Linked DNA regions of Homo sapiens. The protein of the gene in region 1 binds, or shares a complex with, the protein of each later gene. Each region holds a gene or a part of one and is shown on either strand. Other genes may lie near its edges.

Evidence for each region. Proteins that work in one complex are often made in the same cells at the same time.
Region 2: SNRNP200 (region 1) and CWC22 share a complex: the UniProt entries of both Homo sapiens proteins name them as parts of the minor spliceosome.

Annotation. Positions count from the first base shown.
Region 1 is NC_000002.12:96,277,922-96,281,574, forward strand, and holds part of SNRNP200 (U5 small nuclear ribonucleoprotein 200 kDa helicase), read right to left. Parts: intron 1,639-3,653; coding exon 1,530-1,638; intron 1,078-1,529; coding exon 888-1,077; intron 791-887; coding exon 626-790; intron 438-625; coding exon 316-437; intron 30-315; coding exon 1-29. UniProt on the Homo sapiens protein: Catalyzes the ATP-dependent unwinding of U4/U6 RNA duplices, an essential step in the assembly of a catalytically active spliceosome. Plays a role in pre-mRNA splicing as a core component of precatalytic, catalytic and postcatalytic spliceosomal complexes.
Region 2 is NC_000002.12:180,000,744-180,004,396, forward strand, and holds part of CWC22 (pre-mRNA-splicing factor CWC22 homolog), read right to left. Parts: intron 1-3,653. UniProt on the Homo sapiens protein: Required for pre-mRNA splicing as component of the spliceosome. As a component of the minor spliceosome, involved in the splicing of U12-type introns in pre-mRNAs. Promotes exon-junction complex (EJC) assembly.

The DNA of each region.
Region 1 (3,653 bases):
TTCAGCTTGTGGGGGACCTTCTGAGCCAACTACAAAGTGGAAGAAAAATAGCTGGTGATGAACAGGTGACCCTGCCTGAGACCAGCTCAGGCCAAAGCACCACGTGGCCCAGGCTCACACAGCCCTTCAACACCCTGAGGCATGTGGGTGGTAATGGGATGGAGATGGGTTTGAGGGAGGTATGGAGCGGGAGGACATATGGCGGGGGTCGGGGGATGCGTATGGGCGTGTTGGTGGCAGGGATGCCATGTGCTCTGGGCACACAGGCCGAGTTTGTTGTTCCCAGGATGCTCTCCTGAAGTCTGCTGTCCTCACCTGCCTCAGGAGATTGTCTTCATGGTGCCGGATGGGAATGTTCTCATACTCTGCTGCATTGGAGATGATCTCGATAAGCCCTCGCACCTTGGTCTTGGCATTGAGGGACATGCTGAAGAGCTCTGACAGAAAAAGGAAATGTGAGAGAAGCTAAAACCAGGCAGAGAAGGAGCAGAACTGCCCGGGCTCCCCTGCTGTCCCCTGCAGTGTCATCCCGCTGACAAACACGGGCGCACCTCTCATCCCAGTGGGCTCCTGACCCGTGTAAAAAGGCTCCCACAGACAGGACACGGGCCATGCCGGGCCTCACCAATGGTGGTGTAGTTGATGTAATAGTAGGCGGCGATCATGCCTAGGTTCAGAGGCGCCACGTCCATCTCGTCCTCGATGCTGATGCACTTGGACTGCTCCAGGTCACTCAGGGTCTGCTCCACCAGCTCTGACAAGTGGTCCGACAAGTGACGATGGGAGATGCCTATGGAGGCGAGAGGTGAGTGGGGAGCCTCAAGAAGATGCCCAGCAAAGACTGTGAGAACCACCAAAGGATCACGTGTGCTCCCAAGCCCACTGACCCTGCAGGTTGTAGTAATTGGGGTTCTGTGTCATGCGGCGGTACAGAAAGGTCCAGGTGAGGTAGTCCACAGCATCCTGCTTGTTCTCAATGGTCTTGGTGACGATCTCAGCATTGAAGTGGTCATGCATACAGTGGTCCAGGTGAGATTCTACTGGCAATGGCTCATATAAGAACTTCTTGAAGAAATCCTGTGGGTTGGAGAGGGAGAAGGAGTAATAAAGAATTAGTGACAACACGGTCACAGAGGGCCAAGGGCAAATCAACAGGGCATGGTCCCTGTGTGAGACCTAACTAATACCAAAATGGAAGAAGCCACACATTTAGAAAGTGCATCACTGGTGACAATACGCAGTGGGAACAGAGGTACAGCAAGTCACGAGGGCAGAGCAGTGAGCAGCCCAAGGAGGAAGGAGAGAACCAAGTAGAGGGTGAAGACCTCAACACGTGGAGCCAACGGCAGCAGCAAAAGCAAAAGGCAGCAAAATTCCATGTGGGTGGCAGGCTCGTCACAAAAGAATTGTGTAAATAAGAGAGGCAGAAGTTAAGAGACTAAAGTTACTGAAGACATCTATCAAAAGAAAGATTAAAGAATCCATTCTGAGGCTACGGATCCAAGAGGCTCCATGAGTCTAGGACTGACCTTCTTGGAGCCCTGACACATGATGACACAGCGCCCCTCATCGTCCTGCAAAGGGCGGTTGGCGTGGCCCACCATCTGAAGCACGTCATAGATGGGGTAATCCACATAGCTGGTGACAGAAGCAGGGAAAGAAGGAAAAGCCACCTCAACACGGAGACCATGCTCAGGAAGCCCAACTCCCTTCGCCAAGTAAGAGTAAAATGTTAATACGGGGAGACACGGACAAATCACGGGACGACTCTGTTTATGAATCTCTGCACTTACAACTAGCTTCACTGGCTGGCCTGTATAACATTTTAGTATTCAGTGTAAGGGCCATGAATTTGCTGCTCAAGTGCCATGAACCAAGCTACAAAACTATCTAATGCCAAAACCAAAATAACTCCCTATTCGAGGATCAAATATGTAAGTCAAACTTCCCAAACTTTTCTCCTTTAATTAAAAAAAATTATTATTGTTTTTATTTGTTTTTTGATACAGGGTCTTGCTCTGCTGTCCATACTGGAGTGCAGTGGCACAGCCACGGCTCACTGCAGCCTTTACCTCCTAGGCTCAAGTGATCCTCTCACTTTAGCCTCCAGAGCAGGTGGGACTACAGGTGCATACCACCACACTTTCCAAACTTCATAGTTGTGTATTTCGTGAGTCATCAAGTCACCCAACTTTAACCCTACCTAGAAGCAGGTTCAAACATTAAAAATGAACCCGTAAATAAAATTCATTTCAAACTAATCTGCATTTCAGGAAAAAGTTATTAAGCGTTGGGCCAGGCACTATAACTCACACCTGTAATCCCAGCACTTTGGGAGGCTGAGGTGGGTGGATCACTTGAGCTCAGGAATTCAAGACCAGCCTGGGCAACATGGTGAAAACCCATCTATACAAAAAAAAGGAAAAATTAGCTGGGAGTGGTGGCACATGCTGGTAGTCCCAGCTACTTGGGAGACTGAGGCAGGATGATTGCTTGAGCCTGGCAGGCAGAGGCTGTAGTGGGCTGAGATCATACCACCGCATTCCAGCCTAAACGACAGAACAAGATTGTCTTAAAAAAAAAACAACAACAAATTATGCAGGCTTTTTTATGAGAATGACTGACTCTTCTAACTTCTTTTTTTTTGAGATGGAGTCTCGCTCTGTTGCTCAGGCTGGAGTGCAGTGGTGCTATCTCGGCTCACTGCAACCTCCGCCTCCTGGGTTCCAGCGATTCTCCTGCCTCAGCCTCCCAGGTAGCTGGGATTACAGGCGCGTGCCACCACACCAGGCTAATTTTTGTATATTTAGTAGAAACAGGGTTTCACCACATTGGCCAGACTGGTCTCGAACTCCTGACCTTGTGATCCACCCGCCTTGGCCTCCCAAAGTGCTGGGATTACAGGCATGAGCCACCACACCTGGCCCTTTTTTTTTTTTTTTTTTTTTTGAGACGGGGTACCACTCTGTTGCCCAGACTGGAGTGCAATGGCGCGATCTTGGCTCACTGCAACCTCTGCCTCCTGGGTTCAAGTGATTCTCCAACCTCAGCCTCCCAAGTGGCTTGAATTACAGGTGAGTGGCTTGAATAACAGGCACCTGCCATCAAACCTGGCTAATTTTTGTAGAGACGGGGTTTTGTCATGTTGGCCAGGCTGGTCTTGAACTCCTGACATCAGGTGATCTGCCCACCTTGCCCTCCCAAAGTGCTGGGATTACAGGTGTGAGCCACCACACCCAGGCTTTTTTTTTTTTTTTTTTTTTGAGTTGGAGTCTCACTCTGTTGCCCAGGCTAGAGTGCAATGGTGGGATCTCAGCTCACTGTAGCCTCTGCCTCCCAGGTTTAACTGATTCTCCTGCCTCAGCTTCCCAAGTAGCTGGGATTACAGGCGCCTGCCACCACACTCAGCTAATTTTTGTTATTTTTAGTAGAGACGGGGGTTTCACTATGTTAGCCACACTGGTCTTGAACTCCTGACCTCAAGTGATCCGCCCGCCTCAGCCTCCCAAAGTGCTGGGATTACAGGCATGAGCCACTGCGCTCGGCACTCCTCTAGCTTCTTACTTGTCACTATATAGGTGTATGACCTCGACCAAGTCACTTTTCCTAATCTACAAGATGTCTGAGATTAATGACGTAACGTCAAACATTCC
Region 2 (3,653 bases), about 84 Mb from region 1:
ACTGGTCTGCAACTCTGTGTGGAGAGTAGACAGCCCAAATTTTCAGACACTTTAAGACAGTAAGACACAGAGGAGTGAAAAAAAAAAAAGACATTTTAATGAACCCAGTGACACCATTATCTATACTGAAAACCTCACATTATAAATTGGGAGGTAGTATTACCCCCATTCATTTCCTGTATCATGAAGCTAGTCTATTTTAGGCTGTTTAAGTAACCAAATAAAGAGTTAAGTGATCCAATCATTTGGAAATACTATTAATTTTTTTACGCATAGGAAGATTCCCCAATGTGCTTCTTTTCAACAGAATGCAGGATCTATGAGAATAGAAATTTGTCTATTTTTGTTAGTTTCAACATTTCAATAAGCTGTCTCTTGATTTACAGTACAGTATTGATTTCTATTTAAGTTGGTTTTAAAGAAAAATTCTACATGTTGAACTTTTTAATGATTCATTTAAAAATAAATTATGATATTTATGGGGCAAATTCCCTTTATCCTGTCCCCTCTCTAGTTTTACTGTCTCATCCCTACACAGCTATTTTGTGATATGTAAGTTCACACTTGATGCCTCTAATTTTTTTTTCTTTTTTTTTTTTCTTGAGACAGAGTCTGACTGTCACCCAGGCTGGAGCGCAGTGGCATGATCTCAGCTCATCACAGCCTCCACCACCCAGGTTCAAGTGATTCTCATGCCTCAGCCTCCTCCTGAATAGCTGGGATTACAGGTGCGCACCACCATGCCCAGCTAATTTTGTGTATTTTTAGTAGAGATGGGGTTTCGCCATGTTGGCCAGGCTGGTCTCAAACTCCTGACCTCAAGTGATCTGCCCACCTGGGCCTCCCAAAGTGCTGGGATTCCAGGAGTGAGCCACCATGTCCAGCCTGATGTCTCTAATTCTTAACCTCTCCTACCCACTGTAATTCAGCTTTCCCTTCCCACTACTCCACAGCACTTACCAATGTTACACAGTAACTTTTTTTCTTGTTGCTAAATCCAGGGGCAGCTTCCTTCTTTTATGGGACATTGCTCTAGCATTTGGCACCTAATCCCCTTCTTGAAGTTCTCACTTGTCAACTTACAGGGACACCACCTTCATTTGTCCATCCCTTTAATATTTACTATGCCTGAGAGTTTAGTATTTGCTCATGAATTTATGTTTTGTTCATTGCTACATTCCCAACACTAGAGGCTCTCAATACATATTTGTTAAATGGATGAATGAATAGTCCTTATCTTTTCTTTCTCCATATTATCTGTGGAAGATCATCTCCATCCCCATAGCTTTAATTAACATGCGAAAACAACTTTTTACTCCAGCCAATCTTCTCTAGAGTTCCAAATCATGATGTCCAATTTGCTACAGGAAACCTCTAAGTGGATGTGCCAAAGGCCATCTGAACTAAAGAAATCCACAGTGGAACTAATTATTTCCTTCTCCCCATCTTAAACCAGCTCTTCTTCTAAGATATGACTTACAAAGCTTCCCAGGTGGCAATTTCCTTTTCCTTACTCCCTGTAAGTCACCAAATCCTACTGATTCTACCAAATCTGCCCATGTTTCCCCCTCATTCTGTCACTGTATATAGGAGGCTGGGGGAAGGTTCCATTTAGGCTAGGGCCATAATTGATATTTATATTCAGTGGCTGAGAAAAGCTGGGTGCAGTGGCATGTGCCTAGAGTCCCAGCCTGGGCAACATAGTGAGATCCCATCTCAAAACAATAGTAAAAGAAGATGAAAAAAGAAAAATGCTTACAGAGAAAATGAGGAAGTATGAAGCTAAGAGAAAAAGTACAGTCATGGTCTTTACTAAAGGCAGTGTCTATGTACGGTGGGGAGATATATACATTACACAACAGACAAGGCATTGAGGACTCTGTCCTTGGGTAAAGAAGAAATGTCTAAGTGCTACAACAATGTCATAAACAAGTGTTACTGGAAAAGAGGGTTTGGGACATACAGAAAGAAGTAGGTCTTGAAGCTGAGTCTTAAAGAACAAGTAGGAATTATCCATATCGAAAGGGGAAAAGGTCATTCAGGAAATACGATAAGCATGTGTAAAGACTCAGAGACAGAGAATTTGGGGATTCCAAGGTGTACATGAAAAACTGAACATGAATAAGATGGAACATGAGAGACTCATTAAGCTAAACTATGAAAGGCTCTGTATGAGTACACTGGATCCTCAAGGTTCTTGGTCACTGCTACATATCCAGAACCTAGGACAGTGTCTGCTACTTAATAAGTTCCAAGTCTAAAATTAAATAAAAAACGGGGAGTGTAGATTTCTGCTGATTACTCCAATTTCTGCCTACATAGAACTTCCTATAATGCCATTTTGTCAACTTGTTCATCAAGGAATACAACAGCAGCGTTGTCTCACCTATTAACTCCTACTTCTTGGAAATACTAAGATTTCCAAGTCTTAGTACATCAAGACAACACTATCAGATGCCACCCCCTATTAGTCTTCACTCCATGTTAACCTGTGGAACAGCTTGAAAACACTTCCTCATTGAGTGAGATGAAAAAAATACTAGTTCCTTTGCAGGCACTGCAAAAGGAAATCTGTCCCTGAAGGTGCAGTTCTTTTAACTTACAAAATCAACCCTAATTACTGAATATGCCATATGCCTTCATCACACATTCAAACCACTCTCTCCTGTCCCAAATCTGTTCCTCAGCTTGCCTAATTAAGTATATGGGTGAACACATTCTGCCAATTTTCAAGGCACAGCTTTGAAAGTCACCTGGTTATTTAATTAGAGAGCCACGTAGTAAACCACATTCTGGTTTAAAGAAAACTTGGAGGTGTTGGCCTCCACAGAGAAATTTAGCCCCTAGACATGCAAGCACTGCATTCTACTACAGAGGCTCCTGTAGCCAGGTCTAAAATAAAGCTATCCTGACAAACTATTTCAGGAAGGACTCACAGGGTAACTTTTCAGGTGGAAGTGCTGAACTCTGTCTAGCTCCACCCATTTATAAGTTAGGCTGAAAGACAGGTTAAACATGAGTCACCGAGTTCCTCCTCCCCACTAGCTAACCCATTCCACAGGAGTTAATATGTCCCAAGGCCAAGGCAGCCCATACCCCGTTTTTGGTATCTGTTCACTAGGAAAGACTTATTAACTTTATTATATAAAGGCTAGCTATAATCCATGCTTAAAGTTTGTACTTTGTTGTAGGTATTCAAATGTCTCTTCCAATGTCCACTTGGGAAATGTACATACTGAGAAAAAGTTTAAGTCTGGGAGTTTGCTGAAACTAGTATGCTCTCTGGCTTTATTGTTCCACCACCCTCCCATGCTCAGATAAACAGAAAAGTAGGGAAATTCGACAAGGGAGGCTTCAAAGTTATAAGAGGGATGCATGAATGTATTACCAATAGCCACTTCTTTCTCGGACTAGCTCCAGGCACCATGAACAAACCATGACCAAGTTAGGGATATGATGAGTAGTACAAAATTCCATTTAAATACAAGTGGACAATAAATTGAAAATATTATTCAAGTTAAGGCATGGGCATCTGAAATACAAAATGCATCACTGTGTTGTCTTTTGGGTGGTCTCAGGTACAAGCCACTGTAGGTCATTCAACAATGTGCAATCACTGGGAAGGAGAGTTAACTTCTTTTTTTCTTCTTCTT